Linked DNA regions of Homo sapiens. The protein of the gene in region 3 purifies or fractionates together with the protein of the main gene of each other region. This does not show direct contact. Each region holds a gene or a part of one and is shown on either strand. Other genes may lie near its edges.

What was found. The genes of interacting proteins can lie anywhere in the genome.
Region 1: the proteins of TTC4 (region 3) and GCC2 purify together in Homo sapiens (affinity purification with mass spectrometry; 4 studies listed by BioGRID and IntAct, with this or other methods). This does not show direct contact.
Region 2: the proteins of TTC4 (region 3) and EDRF1 purify together in Homo sapiens (affinity purification with mass spectrometry; 5 studies listed by BioGRID and IntAct, with this or other methods). This does not show direct contact.

What each region holds. Positions count from the first base shown.
Region 1 is NC_000002.12:108,452,174-108,459,208, reverse strand, and holds part of GCC2 (GRIP and coiled-coil domain-containing protein 2), read right to left. Parts: intron 6,811-7,035; coding exon 6,743-6,810; intron 1-6,742. UniProt on the Homo sapiens protein: Golgin which probably tethers transport vesicles to the trans-Golgi network (TGN) and regulates vesicular transport between the endosomes and the Golgi.
Region 2 is NC_000010.11:125,715,501-125,722,711, reverse strand, and holds the start of EDRF1 (erythroid differentiation-related factor 1), read right to left. Parts: upstream 3,004-7,211; 5' UTR 2,905-3,003; coding exon 2,797-2,904; intron 1,509-2,796; coding exon 1,300-1,508; intron 1-1,299. UniProt on the Homo sapiens protein: Transcription factor involved in erythroid differentiation. Involved in transcriptional activation of the globin gene.
Region 3 is NC_000001.11:54,711,464-54,718,860, reverse strand, and holds the start of TTC4 (tetratricopeptide repeat protein 4), read right to left. Parts: upstream 3,001-7,397; 5' UTR 2,953-3,000; coding exon 2,842-2,952; intron 2,262-2,841; coding exon 2,144-2,261; intron 1,370-2,143; coding exon 1,208-1,369; intron 1-1,207.

The DNA of each region.
Region 1 (7,035 bases), on a different chromosome or scaffold from region 3:
AATTTCTTGGAACAAATGAAAATGGAAACTACAACATACCAAAACCTATGTGATACAACAAAAGCAGTGCTTTTGTATCACAAAACCTATGTGATTTTTTGTATCACAAAACCTGTGTGATACAACAAAAGCAGGACATGAATACTAAGTTTATGGCAATAAACGCCTACATCCAAAAAGTAAAAAGATTTCAAACAATCTAATGATTTACCTCAATGAACCAGAAAGAACAAGCCAAAGCCAAACCCAAAATTAGCAGAAGGAAACGACTAATAAAGATCAAAGCAGAACTAAATGAAATAGAGACTTTTAAAAAAGGCAGAGGATCAACAAAATGAAAAGCTTGTTCTTCAAAAAGATAAACAAAATTGATAAACTACTAGTTAGGCTAACAACAACAAAAAAGAAGACCTAAATAAAATCAGAAATGAAAAAGGAGACATTACAACCATTCTCATAGAAATAAATAGACCATCAGAGAATATTATGAACAGCTATGCACCCACAAACTGGAAAACCTAGAGGAAATGGATAAATTTCTGGAAACATACAACCTATCAAAGAAAAATCCAGGAAAAAATAGAAAACCTGAACAAATTAATAATGAGTAGCAAGAACGAATCAGTAATAAAAAGTCTCCCCACAAAGAAAAGCCCAGAACCAGATGGATGCACACTGAATTCTACCAAATGTATAAAGACCTAATACCAATCCTCCTGAAACTACTCCAAAATACTGAAGAGGTGGCAATTTTCCCTAACTCATTCTAGAAAGCTGGTGCTACCCTGATACCAAAACCAGACAAGGACACAGCAAAAAAAAAAAAAAAAAAAAGAAAGCAACAACCAATATCCCTGATGAACACCAATGCAAAAATCCTCAGCAAAATACTGGCAAACCAAATCTAACAGCACATTGAAAAGATAATACACCATGATCAAATGAATTTATTCGAGGGATGCAAGGATGGTTCAATATATGCAAATCAATGTGACATATCACATCAACAGAATAAAGGGCAAAAGTCGTATGTCATCTCACTAGACGCAGAAAAAGGAATTCATAAAATTCAACATCCCTTCAGGATAAAAACTCTTAGCAAACTAGGCACAGAAGGATTATACCTCAAAATAATAAAGGCCACATATGACAAACTCACATTAACATCACACAAAAATGGGGAAAAGCTGAAAATCTTTCCTCTAAGAACTGAAGACAAAGATGCCCACTTTCACCACTACTATTCAACATGGGACTGACAGTCCTAGCCAGAACAATTAGGCAAGAGAAAGAAATAAACGACATCCAAACTGGAAACATGGAAGTTAAACTGTCCCTCTCTACAGATGACAAAAGACTATCAAAAAATTCTTAGAGCTGATAAATTCAGTAAGGTTGCTGGATACAAATTCAACATACAAAAACCAGTAGCATTTCTATATACCAACAATAAAATAGCTAAAAAAGGAAATCAAGAAGGCAACACCTTTTACAGTAGCTCAAACAAAAGCCAAAGAAGTGTAAGATCTCTATAATGAAAACTACAAAAACACAGATGAAAGAAACTGAAGAGAACACAAATAAGCAGGAAGACATTTCATGCTCACAAAATATTGTTGAAATGATCATACTATCCAAACTAATGTACAGTTCAATGAAATCCCTATTAAAATACCAACACCATTTTTCAAAGAAACAGAAAAAAGAATCCTAATGTTTTCATGAAACCAAAAAAAAAGCCAGAAAAGCTAAAGAAATTCTGAGTTAAAAAATAAAGCGGCGGCATCATTCTACTTGACTTCAAAACATATTACGAGGCTATAGAAACCAAAGCAACAAAGTATTGGTATATAAACAAGCATACAGACCAATGGAACAAAATAGAGAACCCAAAAATAAATCCTCATATTTATACACAACCGATCTTCGACAATGCCATTAAGAACACACACTGGGCAAACGACACCCTCTTAACAAACGGTGCCAGGAAATCCAGGTAACTATATGCAGAAGAATGAAAGTGAGTCCCTATCTCTCACCATTTAGTTGATACAAATATCAACAAAAATAGATTAAAGACTTATATTATATAAGACCCAAAAGTGTAAAACTAAAAGAAGAAAACACAGGGCAAATGCATCAAGACATTGGTCTAGGCAAAGATTTTATGGCTAAGATCTCAAAAGCCCAGGCAACAAAAACAGACAAATAGGACTACATTAAACTGAAAGGCATCTTAAATTTTTTTTTTTTTTTTTTTATGTAAGGGCTCCCTCTGTCACCCAGGCTGGAGTGCAGTAAGTGTGATTATGGCTCACAGCAGCCTCAACCTCCTGGGATCAAGTGATCTTCCTATCTCAGCATCCCAAGAAGATGGGACTACAGGCATGTTCCACCATGTCTGGCTAATTTATATTTTTTTGTAGAAACGGATCTTGCTATGTTTCTCAGGCTGGTCTCAAACTGCTCGGCTCAAGTGATCCTCCTGCCATGGCTTCCCTTAATGCTGAGATTATAGGCTAAAAAGCTTCTGCATAGCAAAAGAAACAATCAACAGCATGAAGAAGACAACCTCTTAAATGGGACAAAATATTTGCAATCTACTCATCCAATATGGGACTAATACCCAGAGTATACAAGGAACTCAAACAACACAACATTAAAAAATAACCCCATTAAAAAATAGGCAAGGGACATGAATAGACATTTCTTAAAAGACAAAGAAATGGCCAAGAAGTATATGATAAAATACTCAATATCACTAATCATCAGGGATATGCAAATCAAAACCACAATAAGGAATGGCTATTAAGAAGAAAAAAAGTAACAGATATTGATGACAATGTGGAGAAAGAACTCTTCTACACTGTTGGTGGAAGTGTAGGTAAGCATAGTCACTATACAAAACAGTTGGGGATTTCTCAGGCCAGGAGCGGTGGCTCACGCCTGTAATCCCAACACTTTGGGAGGCCGAGGCTGGCTCCCAAAGTGGTCAGGGGATCGAGACCATCCTGGCTAATATGGTGAAACCCCATCTCTACTAAAAAATACAAAAAATTAGCCAGGCTTGGTGGCCGGCGCCTGTAGTCCCAGCTACTCAGGACGCTGAGGCAGAAGAATGGTGTGAACCTGGAAGGCAGAGCTTGCAGTGAGCCAAGATCATGCCACTGCACTACAGCCTGGGCGACAGAGCAAGACTCCGTCTCAAAAAAAAGAAAACAGTTGGGGATTTCTCAAAAAACTAAAAATAGAGCTACCATACAATCCAAAAACCCCAATATTGGTAGTCATTGAAAACAAATCAATATAACAAAGGGATATATACACTCCTGTGTTTATTGCAGCACTACTCACAATAGCAAATACATGAAATCAACTTAAGTGCCCATCAAAGGATGAATGGATAAATGTGGTATATATACACAATGGAATACTATATGCCCATAAAAAAGAATAAGATCACGCCATTTCCAGGAATATGGATGGAGCTGGAGGTCATTATGTTAAGTAAAATCTAAGACAGGGAAAGATAAATATTTTTCAAAATAGCCAGAAGACTTGAAATGTACACAACACATATATATGATAAATACCTGGCTGTGGATAGTAAATACTCTGATTTAATGATTATATATTCTGTGCATTTAACAAAATTTCACATGTACCCCATGAATACGTATAAATATAATGGATCAGGAAAAAAAAAGAAGGAAAAGAAAAAAAACCTTAAAGGTAAAGTTGGCTAACTTGGAGAATTTTTTTTTTTTCTTGAGACGGAGTCTCACTCTGTTGCTCAGGCTGTAGTGCAGTGGCACTATCTCAGCTCACTGCAACCTCTGCCTCCTCGGTTCAAGCGATTCTTCTGCCTCAGCTACCAAGTAGCTTGGGCTATAGGCGCGTGCCACCATGCCTGGTTAATTTTTGTATTTTGAGTAGAGATGGGGTTTCACCAAGTTGGCCAGGCTGGTCTCCAATTCCTGACCTCAGGTGATCTGTCCGCCTCAGCCTCCCAAAGTGCTGGGATTACAGATGTGAGCCACCGAGCCTGGCTGAAATTTTCTAATCTTGTCTTTAGGAGTAGTTTTGACAGTGGGAGAATACATTGATGAGTGATAAGGAGGAAACAGCAGGTAGATATTTAAATGTTCTTATTCTGAAATGCAATTCTGTAAAAAGTATTATAAGAGTTAATGGATAAAAAACTTTCTAGAGTGTTTTCTAACACTCTATAGAGGTTGCAGTGAGCGGAGATCACGCCACTGCACTCCAGCCTGGGCGATAGGGAGAAATCCTATCTCAAGAAAAAAAAAAATCCCCCAGAAATAATAAATGGTAGTAATAACAATGATAACTAACAATTATTGGGTACTTATGTGACCAACCCAGTTCTATGTGCAGTAGATATATTACCTTATCAATCCTACATTTCTACATCAATCCTGTTTGTACCTCAATCCTACAAACAGAAAGTATTATTATCGCTGTTCTACAGATGACAAAACTGAATCATAGAGAAAGAATTTAAGAAACTTAGTCAAGGTCACACAGCTGATCAGTAGATGAACAAGGATTTGAAAGCCTGACTCAGGCAGTCTGGGTGTTATCGACCTTCTTCCTTAATTAACATATAGTTGTACTGTGGCTATCATGGATTAAGAAAACATATAATGACTAAATATACAAAGAAGACTACTGTGAACTCAGTAATACTTAAATGAAACAGTACATTATAAAATGAAATGACATTTGTGCACATCATTCTAGCTTCATACACTGTAACTAAATAAAGAACAAAATGATACTGTGTGACATGCATATGGATTTAAAGACCCCTTGTAATAACTCTCTGGGAGTCCCTCAGTAGTTCACTGCTCACAAGTGGGGAGCCACTGATGAGAAAATAAGATAATATATAACCAGGCTGGGCGCAGTGGCTCACGCCCGTAAACCCAGCACTTCGGGAGGACGAGGCAGGTGGATCACGAGGTCAGGAGATCGAGACCATCCTGGCTAACGTGGTGAAACCCTGTTTCTACTAAAAATACAAAAAATTAGCCAGGCATGGTGGCGGGTGCCTGTAGTCCCAGCTACTTGGGAGGCTGAGGCAGGAGAATGGCGTCAACCCAGGAGGCGGAGCTTGCGGTGAGCCGAGATTGTGCCACTGCACTCCAGCCTGGGCGACAAGGCGAGACTCTGTCTCAAAATAAATAAATAAATAAAAATAAATAAATATATAACCAACGGATATTATGCAAAAGCAGTGAAAACAGTATTTCAGAGCTCTGAGATGTAAAAGAAACTTTACAGAAGCTTGGCCTAAGGCGGGCAATGAAAGTGAGGGAATGAAAAAGCATTTGTTAGCATTAAGGGAGTGGAAATAAGAATAAGCAACTCAGATTTTTTGTGTTTTTTTTTTTTTTTTTAAAAACGGAGTCTTGCTGTGTTGCCCAGGCTGGAGTACAGTGGCTCAATCTCAACTCATTGCAACTTCTGCCTCCTGGGTTCAAGCAATCCTCGTGCCTCAGCCTCCTGAGTAGTTGGGATTTCAGGTGTGGGCAATCACGCCCAGCTAAATGTTGTATTTTTAGTACAGACAGGGTTTCACCATGCTGGCCAGGCTGATCTCAAACTCCTGACCTCAAGTGATCCTCCCACCTTGGCCTCCCAAAGTGCTGGGATTACAGGTGTGAGCCACTGCATTTGGCCTGCAACTCAGGTTTTTAAACGGGGAATAAAAACAATATTTTGTTATCTGGCAGTATTATATAAGACTAAAAAGAGAAAGAGAACCCAGTGAGGTTTTTATTGAAATAGGTTAAGTATTTGATGTGTTTAACATAAAGCCATAGAAATAGAGAGAAAAAAGATAAACTGGAACAATATCTTAAAGCTATAATAGGTCTCTGGTGACTGACACATATAGAGAATAAAGGAAACAGAGAAGTTAAAGTGTCTCTAAAGTCAAAAGGTATAAAAAACTGTGGTGCCACTGGTCTAACCAAGGGAAGCAATTTGGTTGAGTTTGATGAGATAAGTGAAATGTGTGAGAGGGAAACACAACTGTGAGATCTGGGTCAGTAGACATGTCCAGGGATATGGATCTATCTATAGATTATATACTGTACACCTAAAATCACTTAAGTCCTGAGCATGGCCAGGTTTTCAGGGGGCTGGGGAAGAGCAGAGAATGAAGTAACAACCATAATTAGAAAATATGGGCTGGGCGTGGTGGCTCACGCCTGTAATCCCAGCACTTTGGGAGGCTGAGGCGGGCGGATCGTGAGGTCAAGAGAGCAAGACCATCTTGGCCAACATGGTGAAATCCCGTCTCTACTTAAAATACAAAAATTAACTGGGTGTGGTGGCGGGCGCCTGTAGTCCCAGCTATTTGGAAGGCTGAGGCAGGAGAACTGCTTGAACTCGGGAGGCAGAGGTTACAGTGAGCCAAGATCACACCACTGCACTTCAGCCTGGTGACAGAGTGAGACTCCATCTCAAAAAAAAAAAAAAAAAAAAAGAAAGAAAAAAGAAAATACGTGGGAAGAGAGTAGAATAATAATTTCAGAACAGAAAGAGACCCAGAGGTCATTAACCCCCTCTTTTTACAGTGAATCAGATAGGTAAAAACAACCAAGGCAGAGAGGAAGTAGAACAGAAACAGAAAGCCAGATAGCCTCTAGCAGACTGACAATCCTCAGGGAAATTTTATTTCTCTTTAGACATTTCCCAACGTAATAATTACCTTAATAATATCACCAGTTCCTTCAGTAACAGGTTTTGATCTGAGTTCTTCAATTTCTTTCTCCAATTCTAAACAATTAAAAAATAAAGGACTCCGGTTCAGAAATAAAGAACATAATTACTGGGAAACTGATAAGTACATTCTCACAAAACCCCCCATAAATCTGCAAATTAGAATATATTTAAGCAGAATAGTATGATTAATCTCTGCACTCATCACTATACTTCAGCATTACATGGCCAATTTTGTTTCCTCCCAACCTGTACTCACTTCCTCCTTCACTGCTTTTCTTA
Region 2 (7,211 bases), on a different chromosome or scaffold from region 3:
GGAGAGATAAGAAAAACAGAAACAGAAACATTTATCAGGATTTTACTTTCTGAGATTGTGTTTCTAGTGATATACAATACCTCTTAAAAAAATACATGAAAAAAATGTACCTGACACCAATTCAGCCACAAAAGGAAATTAAAAAAAAATGTTAATTGAGCAGCCAACTGATGCCACGTACCACCTGAAGCACATCTATAGTCTATAAGCCTGAAAGGTACCCGACATCACCATGTTCCAACTACTAAATGGCAGAGTCAGGACACTTACCAAGGACTACCTAACAGCAAAGCATGCTTTGTGATTTACTGTATGCTTGAGCCAAATTATTTAGCTCTTCTCAGCTTCCGTTTTCTCAGGTGCAATATAATTAACAGTGCCTATCTCAAAGAGTTGTTGTGAGAATTAAATGAGATAAGCATATAAATACTTGCCACAGCATTTGTATAGAGTCAATATAATTATTCAAATTTCCTCACAACATTTAATTATGTTGACAAATCACAACTGATTAAGCCATTCTTTTAAAAAATGATATTTGGGTTATTCCCAACTTTTTGCTCCTATAAATGATGCTACAAACAAACAGCATTTTTGCAAATATAACTTTTATTTTCTGAGGCTTTAGGATAATTTCCAAAATACCAGCTCATAAAGTATTAGTGTATTTGTGCCTCTTGCTACAAGTTACATGGAAATATTTTAGATTGAGTTGCTGAGAAGGGGGAAGAAGAAAAGAGAACCCTACACATTAAATGTCCTACAGTATGTACATTAATACATTTTTCTCTATAAGACCTCAGGCTACTCTCTCAACTTTGAACACCATCAGTTCTGGTGTCAAAGTCAAGGTGTAGGTCACCCAACATGCTGGGTTTTTAAATCTGGCTTTTCCAGATCAACCTGCCACCATTTAATGAAAAACTCCACAGGAAAGATGAAGGAATGTTCAAGGTTTTCCTCCTCATGCACCAAGCTGATCCTTTGTATTCACATATCCAAAAGGTATGCAAATTGGCTAAAATGAAAGGGCTGATTGAACTTTGGCAGTCAAAACTCATCTTTGCTGATAACATGACGTAGACTTAAAAGAAGCATATGCAATTGATATTGTATGTATATCTTCATGTTTTAACATCATCTATTATCAGAATAAAAAGCCTTTGAAAATCAAATGTGATCTTTCTCTAAAGAGAAATCTCGACAAGTTAATAGGCATTACAAACTGAATTTAAAAGCAAATAAGAGTTTTAAGTGAGGGTGGAGGGGCAGGTAAAAATGCCACTGATTAATATTTACCTTGAAAATGGCTTGCTTTTCTTGCTGTTGCCAAGAATGGTAGTTCCTGCTGGCCCTAGTTTGGCACTCTCTCGTAACCAGTTGGCAGGTGGGAGTTTCAAGTCTGTTTTCTCTTCAAGGCGTGCAAATGCTGTTCGAGGAGGGGCAGAAGAGTATTTCACCACAGCTCGGCTCTTCACTTCATTGCCTCCAAGAAATAAAGCTGATCCCTAATTAACACATTGGGTGAAACTTTAATGAAAATTACTAAGAACGAAAAATCTCACCTTTATAAAAAGAAAACAAGAACCTGTCACACCAGGCTTCACAAGGAACGTATGCCACATGTTACTAACAGCACTTAATAAATTTGAGCATAAATGGTAACATTTACTTAGTTCTTTTACACCAACTTCAAAGAAAAAAGATGAGTCAAGGAGTATGATGGTTATGGTTATCAGCTAGAAAATGGACCACCCACATCTCTTTTAAAATGTATTCATGTAAAGTGGAGAAGCAGAAACCAAGGAGACTCAATGGTATCATGTTAACTAGATGCAAACTTTAGTAAAGCCTATTTTCAGTATTAAAGATGTATTTTAATTCTTTTTTTTTTTTTTTTTGAGACGCAGTCTTGCTTTGTCGCCCAGGCTAGGGTGCAGTGGAGCAATCATGGCTCACTGCAACCTCGGCTTCTGGGGTTTACGCCATTCTCCTGCCTCAGCCTCCCTAGTAGCTGGAATTACAGGCGTGCACTACCACGTCCGGCTAATTTTTGTATTTTTAGTAGAGACAGGGTTTTGCCATGTTGGCCAGGCTGGTCTCGAACTCCCCGACCTCAGGTGATCCACCCACCTCGGCCTCCCAAAGTGCTAGGATTACAGGCGTGAGCCACCGCGCCCGGCCAAAGATGTATTTTAATTTTAATAACACATCATTCATAAAATAGTCTGGTAGAACATTTGGGCTTTTTGTTTTAATGCAAATATTTAGTAATCGATGCATCGGTTCATGCATGCATGCATGGTTCAAATACTCTTGAGTCTCTAACTTCATAGAAAGGCATTGGGGGTTCGTTCCTCACAGCCTGCACTTGCACACTCCCAAAGCAAGTTCGGCGTCTGGGTTCAATATTCTAACCTTTCACGCAGTACCTCTTCTGCATGGCAAACATTTTACACCCTTTGTGAATTAGTTCGGTCTCATTCTCGGCGAGTCACTACCTGGCACCGTTTCTTCCCTCCTGCTTTGCACGACTGTGCCACGTTTTGGAACGACATATTTACATGTACCCTCCTTGAGAGGAAAGATCGTATCTAATTCACCTGTCGGCTACCAGAACTGCTTTTAATACGAATACCTGCCGACTGGAGCATGGACTTCAACTCCCTGTTTTGGGGGTGTCAGGGAAACATGGAGAAGCCTCCAGAATCTGCCGGGAACCGTGGCATCCCTCCCCGGTGGAGCGGGTCCTCCGCTCCCACATCCCTGGCAGGTCCCCCTCCGCGGAGGACTCACCTGTGCAGAAGATTCCTCGGATTCTCCCTGGGACAGGAGGCTGAGCCCTCCTCGAGCGGCGGCCCCGGCCGGCGGACCCTCGGCTCCGGCCTCCTTGGCATCCCCCATCACTTCGATCCAGGGCAGGCGATACGACGGGGGAGCGGAGGAGCAGCAGCAGCAACGCAGGCCCAAAGCAGGGTAAGCGCCAGAGACGCTCCGCGGACCGCACTTCCGGTCTCTGCCAGGAAGAAGTAGCTGTGACTCGCCATTAAATCTCGCGATCTTTGTCCCGAAGGCCCGGCCCCGCCTCCCGCTGCGGGTGCCACCTTCGCGGCCAGGGCGGGAATTGTAGTGCGCCTGCGCTTGTCCGAACCTCTTCGGGAGACTACTTCTCGCGGTATCTGACTCCTAGGCTCCGCCCTCTGCACGCCGCTCACGGTATCTGACGCTCAGGCTCCGCCCCCTGCATGTCTTTGTTGGCAAACAGTTCTGGGGGTCGTCCGATCCTGCAGGTAGTGTCCGCGTGGGAGGGGAGGTGCAGCCGTCAGCGCTGCCGGCGGCTCCCGTTACGTGAATTAGTGAGAGGTTCAAACTTCTTCCCCAGGCTTCAGTGTCACATCTTTTCACACGGGCACCCCGAGGGCCCGGACTGGAAAGGCGAGCCAGCCATCTCGAGACTGGGCGCTCCTGCCCGCCTTTTAGTGCCCATGTGGCCCCATCCTGGGTGTGGGAGCGGCGGGGCTTCCGGGGAGGGCGCTGGGACGCGCGGACGAGGCCCTCCCCGTTTAGGGAATGGGTGGCTTTCGGAGTCTTCTGGGGGCCCGGCATGCCCGCTGCTTGCGGGGCGTCCCAGGTGGTGCAGGACCCGTGAGACGCTGAACCTGGGGCCTCGTAACGCCTAGGTTTCCATTCGGGCGCTCTGGATGGGTCCGAGACTCGGCATTTCTCACAGGTTCCCAGGAAACGATGCCAGCGCTTTGAGTAGCGAAGAGGTGGAGAAATAGCCCGGGCCGTTTGCAAGCTTTGAAGGTCCAGGCTCTCTTTCACACTCCTCAGTGTCATCTCAAACTGTCAAACGCAGCCACATCCGTTATACAATACATGTTTTGTAGTAAAAGTGTTTTGTTGTGCCGTAAGATACAGAAAGTGTTTTTAAAAATTAACTTGGCTCTTGCAATTTGGCTGTCTCAATTTGTAATTCACGTTTGGCTCTTACAACTCACTGTCCTGTCCGTTTTCAGGAATGCTCCTGATGAGTAAGCATTCAACTCACAAATTGCTTTCAAATGTAACAAAACAATTTTATGAATTAAATTTAACAGGCCGGGCGCGGTGGCTCACGCCTTTAATCCCTGCACTTTGGGAGGCCGAGGTGGGCAGATTGCCTGAGGTCAGGAGATCGAGACCAGCCTGACGAACAGGGTGAAACCCCATCTCTACTAAAAATACAAAAATTAGCCAGATGTGGTGGTGGGCGCCTGTAATCCCAGCTACTAGGGAGGCTGAGGCAGGAGAATCGCTTGAACCTGGGAGGCAGAGGTTGCAGTGAGCAGAGATGGCAACACTGCGCTCCAGCCTGGGCGATAGTGAGACTCTGTCTTAAAAAAATAATAATAGTGAATTAAATTTAACAGTTAATTTGATATAATAGTGTATTTTGTAGACATTTACTTCAACATGTATTGATTTTGATTTTTATCATTTCATTTGAATATTGCAGCCAATAATTCTTTTTTGGTTTTTGCAAGTTATGCATTGTTTTTTATGGTGAAAAGTTGAACATAATATCTAACACTAGGAGGAGGATAGTCAAATTTGGTTTTGGTAGAAAATAAACCCTGTGCAACCATAAACTTGTTTTTCAGGAATATTTAAGAACATTTAAATTGCATATCATATAATGTTAAGTGATAAGTGAAATTTTAAAAAGCCAATATGCAGCCTAGCGCGGTGGCTCACGCCTGTAATCCCAGCACTTTGGGAGGCAGATGCGGGTGGATCACGAGGTCAGGAGATCGAGACCATCCTGGCTAACACGGTGAAACCCCGTCTCTACTAAAAATACAAAAACAAAATTAGCCAGGTTTGGTGGCAGGCACCTGTAGTCCCAGCTACTCAGGAGCCTGAGGCGGGAGAATGGTGTGAACCCAGGAGACGGAGCTGGCAGTGAGCCGAGATTGCACCACTGCACTCCAGCCTGGGCAGCAGAGCGAGACTCCGTATAAAAAAAAAAAAGCCAATGTGCAATATGATCTTAATTTTAAAAACGTCTCCATTTCTGTCTCTGTGTCCACAAAACAGACCTCTGAGCCGTAAAATGAAGTGATTTAAAATTTATTCTTTACATTTATTGATTTGCATATATTGAACTAGCCTTGCATCCCAGGGATGAAGCCCACTTGATCATGGTGGATAAGCTTTTTGATGTGCTGCTGGATTCGGTTTGCCAGTATTTTATTGAGGATTTTTGCATCAATGTTCATCAAGGATATTGGTCTAAAATTCTCTTTTTTGGTTGTGCCTCTGCCCGGCTCTGGTATCAGGATGATGCTGGCCTCATAAAATGAGTTGGGAGGATTCCCTCTTTTTCTATTGATTGGAATAGTTTCAGAAGGAATGGTACCAGTTCTTCCTTGTACCTCTGGTAGAATTCGGCTGTGAATCCATCTGGTCCTGGACTCTTTTTGGTTGGTAAGCTATTGATTATTGCCACAATTTCAGAGCCTGTTATAGGTCTATTCAGAGATTCAACTTCTTCCTAGTTTAGTCTTGGGAGGGTGTATGTGTCGAGGAATTTATCCATTTCTTCTAGATTTTCTAGTTTATTTGCATAGAGGTGTTTGTAGTATTCTCTGATGGTAGTTTGTATTTCTGTGGGATCGGTGGTGATATCCCCTTTATCATTTTTTATTGCATCTATTTGATTCTTCTCTCTTTTCTTCTTTATTAGTCTTGCTAGCAGTCTATCAGTTTTGTTGGTCCTTTCAAAAAACCAGCTCCTGGATTCATTAATTTTTTGAAGGGTTTTTTGTGTCTCTATTTCCTTCTGTTCTGCTCTGATTTTAGTTATTTAAACAGAACCAAAGACAAAAACCACATGATTATCTCAATAGATGCAGAAAAGTCCTTTGACAAAATTCAACAACTCTTCATGCTAAAAACTCTCAATAAATTAGGTATTGATGGGCTGTATCTCAAAATAATAAGAGCTATCTATGACAAACCCACAGCCAATATCATACTGAATGGGCAAAAACTGGAAGCATTCCCTTTGAAAACTGGCACAAGACAGGGATGCCCTCTCTCACCACTCCTATTCAACATAGTGTTGGAAGTTCTGGCCAGGGCAATTAGTCAGGAGAAGGAAATAAAGGGTATTTAATTAGGAAAAGAGGAAGTCAAATTGTCCCTGTTTGCAGATGACATGATTGTATATCTAGAAAACCCCATTGTCTCAGCCCCAAATCTCCTTAAGCTGATAAGCAACTTCAGCAAAGTCTCAGGATACAAAATCAATGTACAAAAATCACAAGCATTCTTGTACACCAATAACAGACAAATAGAGAGCCAAATCATGAGTGAACTCCCATTCACAATTGCTTCAAAGAGAATAAAATACCTAGGAATCCAACTTACAAGGGACGTGAAGGACCTCTTCAAGGAGAACTACAAACCACTGCTCAATGAAATAAAAGAGGATACAAAGAAATGGAAGAACATTCCATGCTCATGGGTAGGAAGAATCAATATCGTGAAAATGGCCATACTGCCCAAGGTAATTTACAGATTCAATGCCATCCCCATCAAGCTACCAATGACTTTCTTCACAGAATTGGAAAAAACTACTTTGAAGTTCATATGGAACCAAAAAAGAGCCCGCATTGCCAAGTCAATCCTAAGCCAAAAGAACAAAGCCGGAGGCATCACACTTCCTGACTTCAAACTATATTACAAGGTTACAGTAACCAAAACAGCATGGTGGTACCAAAATAGAGATATAGATCAATGGAACAGAACAGAGCCCTCAGAAATAACGCCGCATATCTACAGCTATCTGATCTTTGACAAACCTGAGAAAAACAAGCAATGGGTAAAGGATTCCCTATTTAATAAATGGTGCTGGGAAAACTGGCTAGCCATATGTAGAAAGCTGAAACTGGATCCCTGCCTTACACCTTATACAAAAATCAATTCAAGATGGATTAAAGACTTAAAACGTTAGACCTAAAACCATAAAAACCCTAGGAGAAAACCTAGGCATTACCATTCAGGACATAGGCATGGGCAAGGACTTCATGTCTAAAACACCAAAAGCAATGGCAGCAAAAGCCAAAATTGACAAATGGGATCTAATTAAGCTAAAGAGCTTCTGCACAGCAAAAGAAACTACCATCAGAGGGAACAGGCAACCTACAAAATGGGAGAAAATTTTC
Region 3 (7,397 bases):
GAGCTCAGGAGTTCAAGGCCAGCCTGGGCAACATAGCGAGACCCCTGTCTCAATTAAAAAAATAAATTATTTTTAAAAAAAACCCACAGGTCTAACATAACCAAGACTAGTCACCAGCAATACTACTTAAATAATCATTTCCCAAATTTACGACTACAGAACCTGCATGATGTTGGTGTTACCTGAAGAGGAGGCTTACAAAATTTGAGAAACCCAGGGTAAATTTATTTTCTTGCAGGCTATCTCAGTGTCTTTAACATGTTAACATGTACTGTAAATCTCTAAGAAGCAGCATTTTCCAAACTTCCTCAATCTCCTGGGTGCGGTGGCTCACACCTGTAATTCCAATACTTTGGGAGGCTGAGGCGGATGGATCACTTGAGCCCAATTTCGAGACCAGCCCGGGCAACATGGCAAAACCCTGTCTCTACAAAAAAATGTAATAAAGTAAAAAATATGAATAAATAAATGAGTTAAAATTCCTCATCCAAGCAACTTTTTAGAAACAGGGTCTCACTTTGTCACCCAGGCTGGAGTGCAGTGGTGTGATTATGGCTCCCTGTAGCCTTGAGCGATCCTCGTGCCTCAGCCTCCCAAGTAGCTAGGACTACAGGCAGGCACCACCATGCCCAGCTAAATTTTTGGAGAGACAGGGTCTCACTATATTGCCCAGGTTGGTCTTGAACTCCTGGCCTCAGGCGATCCTCCTGTCTCAGCCTCCCAAAGTGCTTGGATTACAGGTATGAGCCACTGCACCCAACCAAAAAATATTTTTAACTCAAAGGTCCCACAGAACGCTTTGAGATATTCTCCCTTAGATTAAAATAGCTTATCTCACCTAAAGATCTCTACTGCCTTACTCCTGCTAGCATCCTTGAAAAGAGGATAAAAGGCCAGAAAAACACATTTTTTGAGAGAGTAGAAGCCCTTGGGCTCAAAAATCTCAGAACATACTGCCTCATACATCAAACACCTTACTTGAGTGACCAAGTCACTTTTTGGGTTGAGACAGTAAGAATTACACAATCCATCCTGTTTCTCTTTTCATCATGTCAACTTGGAAGACCAGAGTTCAATCAGAGTAAACTATCCTTAGTCTGGGTTTCTGGGATAACAGCCCCTCATCCTCTGATGTTCTCAAACCTCCACTAACCATCATAATGGCTTGTATCATAAGTTTATTCTTCAGAAAGCACTTATAAATTACCCAGATAGTACTGTGCTGCTGCCCGGTTGGTATAAAGGACAGCATTCAAATCAGGATCTGCACATTTCTTCTTTAAGCCTTCAGTGTATGAAATTACAGCTTTCTTGTAGTCTTTTTCTTTAAAGTAATCATTGCCCTCATCTTTATAGGTCTTGGCCTGTTCTGCAAAGAAGAGGAAAAATAATCACTATTGCTTACTTTTTAAAAGGCTCATTAAAAATAGATTCTAAATCATGTAATAATGTACTATATGACACACCAAAGCGAAGAAACCAATAGGGAAAGGAAACTCGATGTTATGATAAAAGTGGGTATCAACATGGACAAAGTCGCACAAATGTAATGCTAATTCCAAATATCTTACAAGGTAGATTACTAAGTGCTTTCCAAAAAAAAGAAGTATAAAGGAAAAAAGTACACTCATCCTAGCTGTTGAAGAAAAGAATTTTTTTTAATCACTGAAGAAATCAGTGAGGGGCAGGGGGATTGATTATACTTCTGCTTTTGCTTATGTTGTTTATTCTGTGGAGTGCAAATTCCCCTCCTCACCCTAGTAAAAGCCTACAAAATTACAAAGATTCAGCTCAAATTTCCTATCTATTGTGAATCCACTCCTGCTCCTTAAAGTGTTCCAACAGGACCCACTACAGCTGTAGTATACACCTACATGTTGACACTTATAGCATAAGTTTGTCTTGATTCTTTAAGACAAAAGGCTTCTCACTGAGCCTGACCTTGGAGGGTGGAACTGTGTCTTATTCACCCCTGTATCCCCAGTCCTTACCACTTAGTAGGTACAAAAAGAAGTATATTGGAATGAATAATGACAAGTTAGCTCAGGCTAACTACTTCTTGTTATCAATCAGAACGCTTCTAACCCACACTTAATTTCAGTTCAATGGAAACACAAAACAAATATTAGTCATGTTAAGATACCTTCTGGAGAACGCTCCTCATCAAAAATAATTGACTGGAGACAAGCCAAGTCAGGATTCTCCCTGGGATCAATTTCTGATGGCGCTCTCGACATAAATAGGGGGACCTTTTCAAATTCCTGTAAATGGTTAAGAATGAACTACATGAATAAGCTTTTCTACTGAGCAGATCCAATTCCATGACTCATTACCAAAGTTTTTTTACTCATCATGATTTGCAAATCATCACAGCTAGCTGTATCCATTCAGGCCTCCGCTTCCCTTCTGTAAAATGGGAGTGTGGTGTAATGGTCTCTAATGATTGTTTTAGTTCTCACATTCTACAAGAGCGGCAGGAATTACCATTAATTGAGCGCCCTTATGTTCTTGGCACTTTACCAACTGTCTCATTTCATCTTTGCTATTGGTGATATAGTTCGCGCAGTTTTACAGATGAGGAAACGGACTCTGAGAAGTTAAGTAACTGACTCATATCAGAGCCAGTTAAGTGGTGGAGTCACAGGCCTGACTCCAAAACCTAGGTTCTCAGCTTAAGAAGCGACTCAAAACCTCGAGGCCGATTTTCAATACTCAACTAGAAACCAGCGATCGGCTGGCAGCGCCAGGGATCTGGGATTGAAGGAGGTGCCCCAGAGCCCGGGTGCCCCACGAGTCCGGACGACGCCCCTACACACGTGGGGAGACCCCAGGACCGCCCACCTTCTCCCACTGGTCCTCATGAAAGCCGCCACGGTAAGGCTGGCTCTGGAACTTTTCCAGGAACGAGTCCATGACGTCGTCTGAGGTGGGATCCTGCCCAGGTTGTTCCATAGCTGATGCCCTGCCTTCCAGCCCGGGTCCCAGCGCCGTGAAGCGAGCGGCTCCTTCCGGCGGCGCGGGTTCCCTTCCCTCAATCCTCCCGGCAGCGCAGGTCCCCGCGCCTTGGGTTCCGCCGGCCTGGGGGCGTGGCCGGGCGTGGCCAATACGCTCCTCCCCCGGCCCGCCCTCCTCGGCAGTGCCTGGCCTCGCCCGGCCTTCGAATGCTTTTGGGGTGGTGCGTGAACCCGAATCCCCAAAGCCCCCATCTCACTTCATTCATTTGTTCGTCAGTCAGTCAACACATACTTACTTAGCTCTTTCTGCGCTTCCGGCCTGTTCTAGTGGCTGGCTATATAGCGGTGGGCAGAGCAGATGAAATCTCTGCCCTCTAGGAGTTGCTAAGGCAGTGGGGAGGAAACGACAATAGTTGAGATGTAAGAGTTTGTCAGGGGTAGCAAGAGCTATTGGGGAAAAGTTTTAAACAGGATGGGTAGACATTCTGCCAGAGGCCTGGGAGTGACTAGGAGGGGTCTGGGAAAGGCATTCCCATGGAAGGAACAGGGAACAGTCCGGAAGCCTGATGCGGGAGAGTCTTCTGTGCTTGGGGAACAGCAAGGAGGCCAGTGGGGCTGAAGCAGAGTGAGGAAGGGGGCAAGGAGATGATGAGGTGGGAGGACAAAAGGGCTGTGACTATGAGGATTTGGCTATTTCCTCAGTGGTATGGGACCTTTTGGAGAGTTTCGAGGAAAGGAGAGACTGATCAGACCTCTGTCTCTGAGCTTAGCCACCCCTAACTCCCACAGTTCAGATGGAAAAGGGTCTTCGGTCCAGGTGCTGCAGGCCTGGTTAGGCAGCCGCTGTGGCTTCCTGCAGCCTCTCTACCGGCCAGCAAATGGCTGCAGGTCCCTGCACCGGGGCTACAGCCTTGGGGAGCTCCTAGCCTGGTCTGGAATGAAAAGCAGACAGGAAGCACACCAATCTAAACTGGCATTGGGTCACAGGTCTGCTCAGTGAAGGCTCAGAGGGGTGGGATTCAAGGTGATGCAGAGCTGAGATCAGAGCTGAGGAAGGTCTCTGCAGATGGATAGAGGACTCAGCGTTTTAGGCAGTGGGAGCTCATATGTGGAGAGAGGCATGGAGGTGTGCACAGGCCCGCCATGCTGGGTACTGCAAGTGTTAAGAGGTGTGTCCAGGGCCGGGCACGGTGGCTCACGCCTGTAATCCCAGCACTTTGGGGGGCTGAGGCGGGCAGTTCATGAGGTCAGGAGTTCGAGACCATCCTGGCTAACACAGTGAAACCCCGTCTCTACTAAAAATACAAAAAATTAGCCAGGCGTGGTGGCACGCACCTGTAGTCCCAGCTACTGGGGAGGCTGGGGCAGGAGAATCGCTTGAATCCGGGAGGTGGAGGTTGCAGTGAGCCGAGATTGCGCCACTGCACTCCAGCCTGGGCCACAGAGCAAGACTCCACCTCAAAAAAAAAAAGAGGTGTGGCCGGCAAGTGGGTAGGGGCCAGAAGGCCTGCCTGCCTCACTGACCTTGGTCCTGCAGAGGATAATGAGTCACTGAAAAGACCTAAGAGGAGCAATGGCCGTGAGCACATTTGTCTTAGGAAGGCCTGGGCTGCCAGGTGAAGCATTGATGGGGGGAGGTTGGTTAAGAGATTGACAAGGAGGATGCTGATAAGAGACCAAGGTAAGACAGAGATCTGAAGCCCAGCAGTGGAGCTGGCAGGGTAGTCATTCTTTGATATGGGGATGGAGACAGCATGGCTAAGGATGGCGCATGGGGACCATGAGCCTTCCAGTGCCAGGACTTTATCTTTTCCCTTCTGATTCTTCCACACCCAGCAGAACATCTGGTCCTAGCACTCCCTTCCCTCCAAATCCAAACCTCCTTTTCCACACTTCCTCCTCCAGCCCTGCTCCCTAATCCTGGTTCCCTCCCTTATTCTCCTCTTCATCATCTTTTCCTTTACTGAGTCCAGAGCCTACAGAGTCTTTTTGCTTTCTTTTTTTTCTCATTTGATTCCCATAAGAACACTGTGAGGTATGAACCCATTTTATAGGTAACAATAGGGGAACCTAAGAGAAGCAAAGTGACTTGCCCAGCACACTCTGAACCTTCCAACTCAAAACTACTTAGTGGTCTTGGCCGATAACTGAGTCGATCAGCCTTTGCTGTGCTTAGGGGCCACCCAGACCCAAAATATAGCAGCTGTCATCTGTCAAGGCCACCCTAGACCTGGGTCCTAGCCCATGAAAGCAGAAGTGGTTCTGGGTGGAAGGGTTCAGGTATAGGAGTCTGGAGATCTTCGGGACCTACACTTCCATTAGTTACCTTGCATGACCTTGGGCAAGGCCCATCCCTCATTAAGCTGTGTCCTCATCTGTGGAATGTGGGCAATAAAGCCAGTCTGCCTTCCCCATAATCCAGTCTGCCTTCCCCATAATCCAGTCTGCCTTCCCCATAATCCAGTCTGCCTTCCCCATAATCCATTCTGCCTTCCCCATAATCCACAGGGCTACTGTAAGACTCCAAGGAGGCAATGTTTGTGAACATTCTCAGTGATGGAAAGGATTGTGCAAATGAATCTCCCCATTTCCTACTCTCTCTCTCAGGCCCAGAATACCAATGGCCTGGGCTACCATTTATTAGAAGATGATTGTGTGGTCAACATCATGGGTTCCTCACCCCCAACAGGAGCTTAAGTTAGGTGCTCCACAGGCTGATGTCTCTGCCCACTCTACATACTCTCCCAGGGAAATTGTACCCCAGCCCCTACACACAGATGAATCCCAAATCTGCTTCCTTCTCAGGTCCCTCAGCTGAGCTCCACCCGTGTCCCTTTGTGCCCGCCATAGTCTATTCAGGCTGCTATAACGGAATACCATCAACTCTGGTGTGTAAACAGCAAACATTTATTTCTCACAGTTGTGGAGGCTGGGAAGTCCGAGATCAAGGCCTGGCAGATTCGGTGTCTGGTGAGGGCCTGCTTTCTGGTTCACAGATGCCATCTTCTCAGTGTCCTCCCATGGTGTGAGTAGTGAGGGAGCTCTCTGAAGGCTCTTTTTTATAAGGGCACTAATCCCATTCACTAATCCCTAATCACCTCTCAAAGGCCCCCACCTCCTAATATAATGACCTTGGGGGTTCGGATTTCATATGAATTTGCAGGGACACAGCATTCAGACCACAGCGGCAGCCAACTGCCCTGTGGATATCTCCACTAGCTTGCTGCACAGTCCCTCAAGCTTACCATGCCCATATTGAACTCATCCCCTGCCCCACAACCTGCTCCTGGTCCTGGGTTCACCACTTAGTGTGGGCTCCATTGGCTTAGTCATCCACCCAGAAATCTGGGTGCCAAACTCAGCTCCTCCCTCTCCCTCCTCCCTCCTCCATTCTGTCAACCACTAGGCTCTGAAAATCCCCTTCCTCAGTCTCCTGCAGGCCTGGCCATCCTCTCCATTTTGTGCTGCAAGGTCTGGTCACTGTTCTCTCAGCAGTTTCTGGCTAAGTCTCCCTGATGGTGCTCTTGTCCACCCTGCCATCCAGCCCTTTCACTCCATGACATAGTGAGCTTCTTCTGCTTCCTTTTTTATTTACTCCCTTTTATACCCCAAAGCCCTCCTCCTTACCCTAATCAATCATTCTAGCATGTTTTATTAGCATTTTTTTGTTTTGTTTTATAGAGATGGAGGTCTCACTATGTTGCCCAGGCTGGTCTTGAACTCCTGGCCTCAAGTGATCCTCCCACCTTGGCCTCTTAAAGTGTTGGGATTACAGGCATGAGCCACCACACCTGGCCTCTAGTGTGTTTACTGTGTCTTCTCAGTTTCTAAGTGTTCTTCCAAAATGTGAATTCTTTTGTGTGTACATTCTTTTTTTTTTTTTTTTTTTTTTTTGAGATGGAGTTTCACTCTTATTGCCTAGGCAGGAGTGCAATGGCGCGACCTTGGCTCACTGCAACCTCCGCCTCCCAGGTTCAAGCGATTCTCCTGCCTCAGCCTCCTGAGTAGCTGGGATTACAGGTATGCGCCACCACGCCTGGCTAATTTTGTATTTCTAGTAGAGACGGGGTTTAACCATGTTTGTCAGGCTGGTCTCGAACTCCTGACTCAGGTGATCCACCCGCTTCAGGCTCCCAAAGTGCTGGCATTACAGAAGTAAGCCACCGCGCCTGGCCAACTTTTGTGTATACATTCTTGATACACTTTTTCCCCTCAGCACTGGGTTTTAGGTCCCATCTGGCAGCCCCGAACTGCTGTGCAGGGCTCCACGGCACACATACTCTCCCAAGGGGTGGATACCCAGGCTGCCTCCTCTCCCCACCACCACAAAGAACACTGATCAACTTCCTCATGCATCTCTCTTTATGGACCTGTGGAATATTCCCCCGAGCTATGTATCCATGAGTGGAACTGCTCAGTCGTGGGTATGCATGAACTTAATAA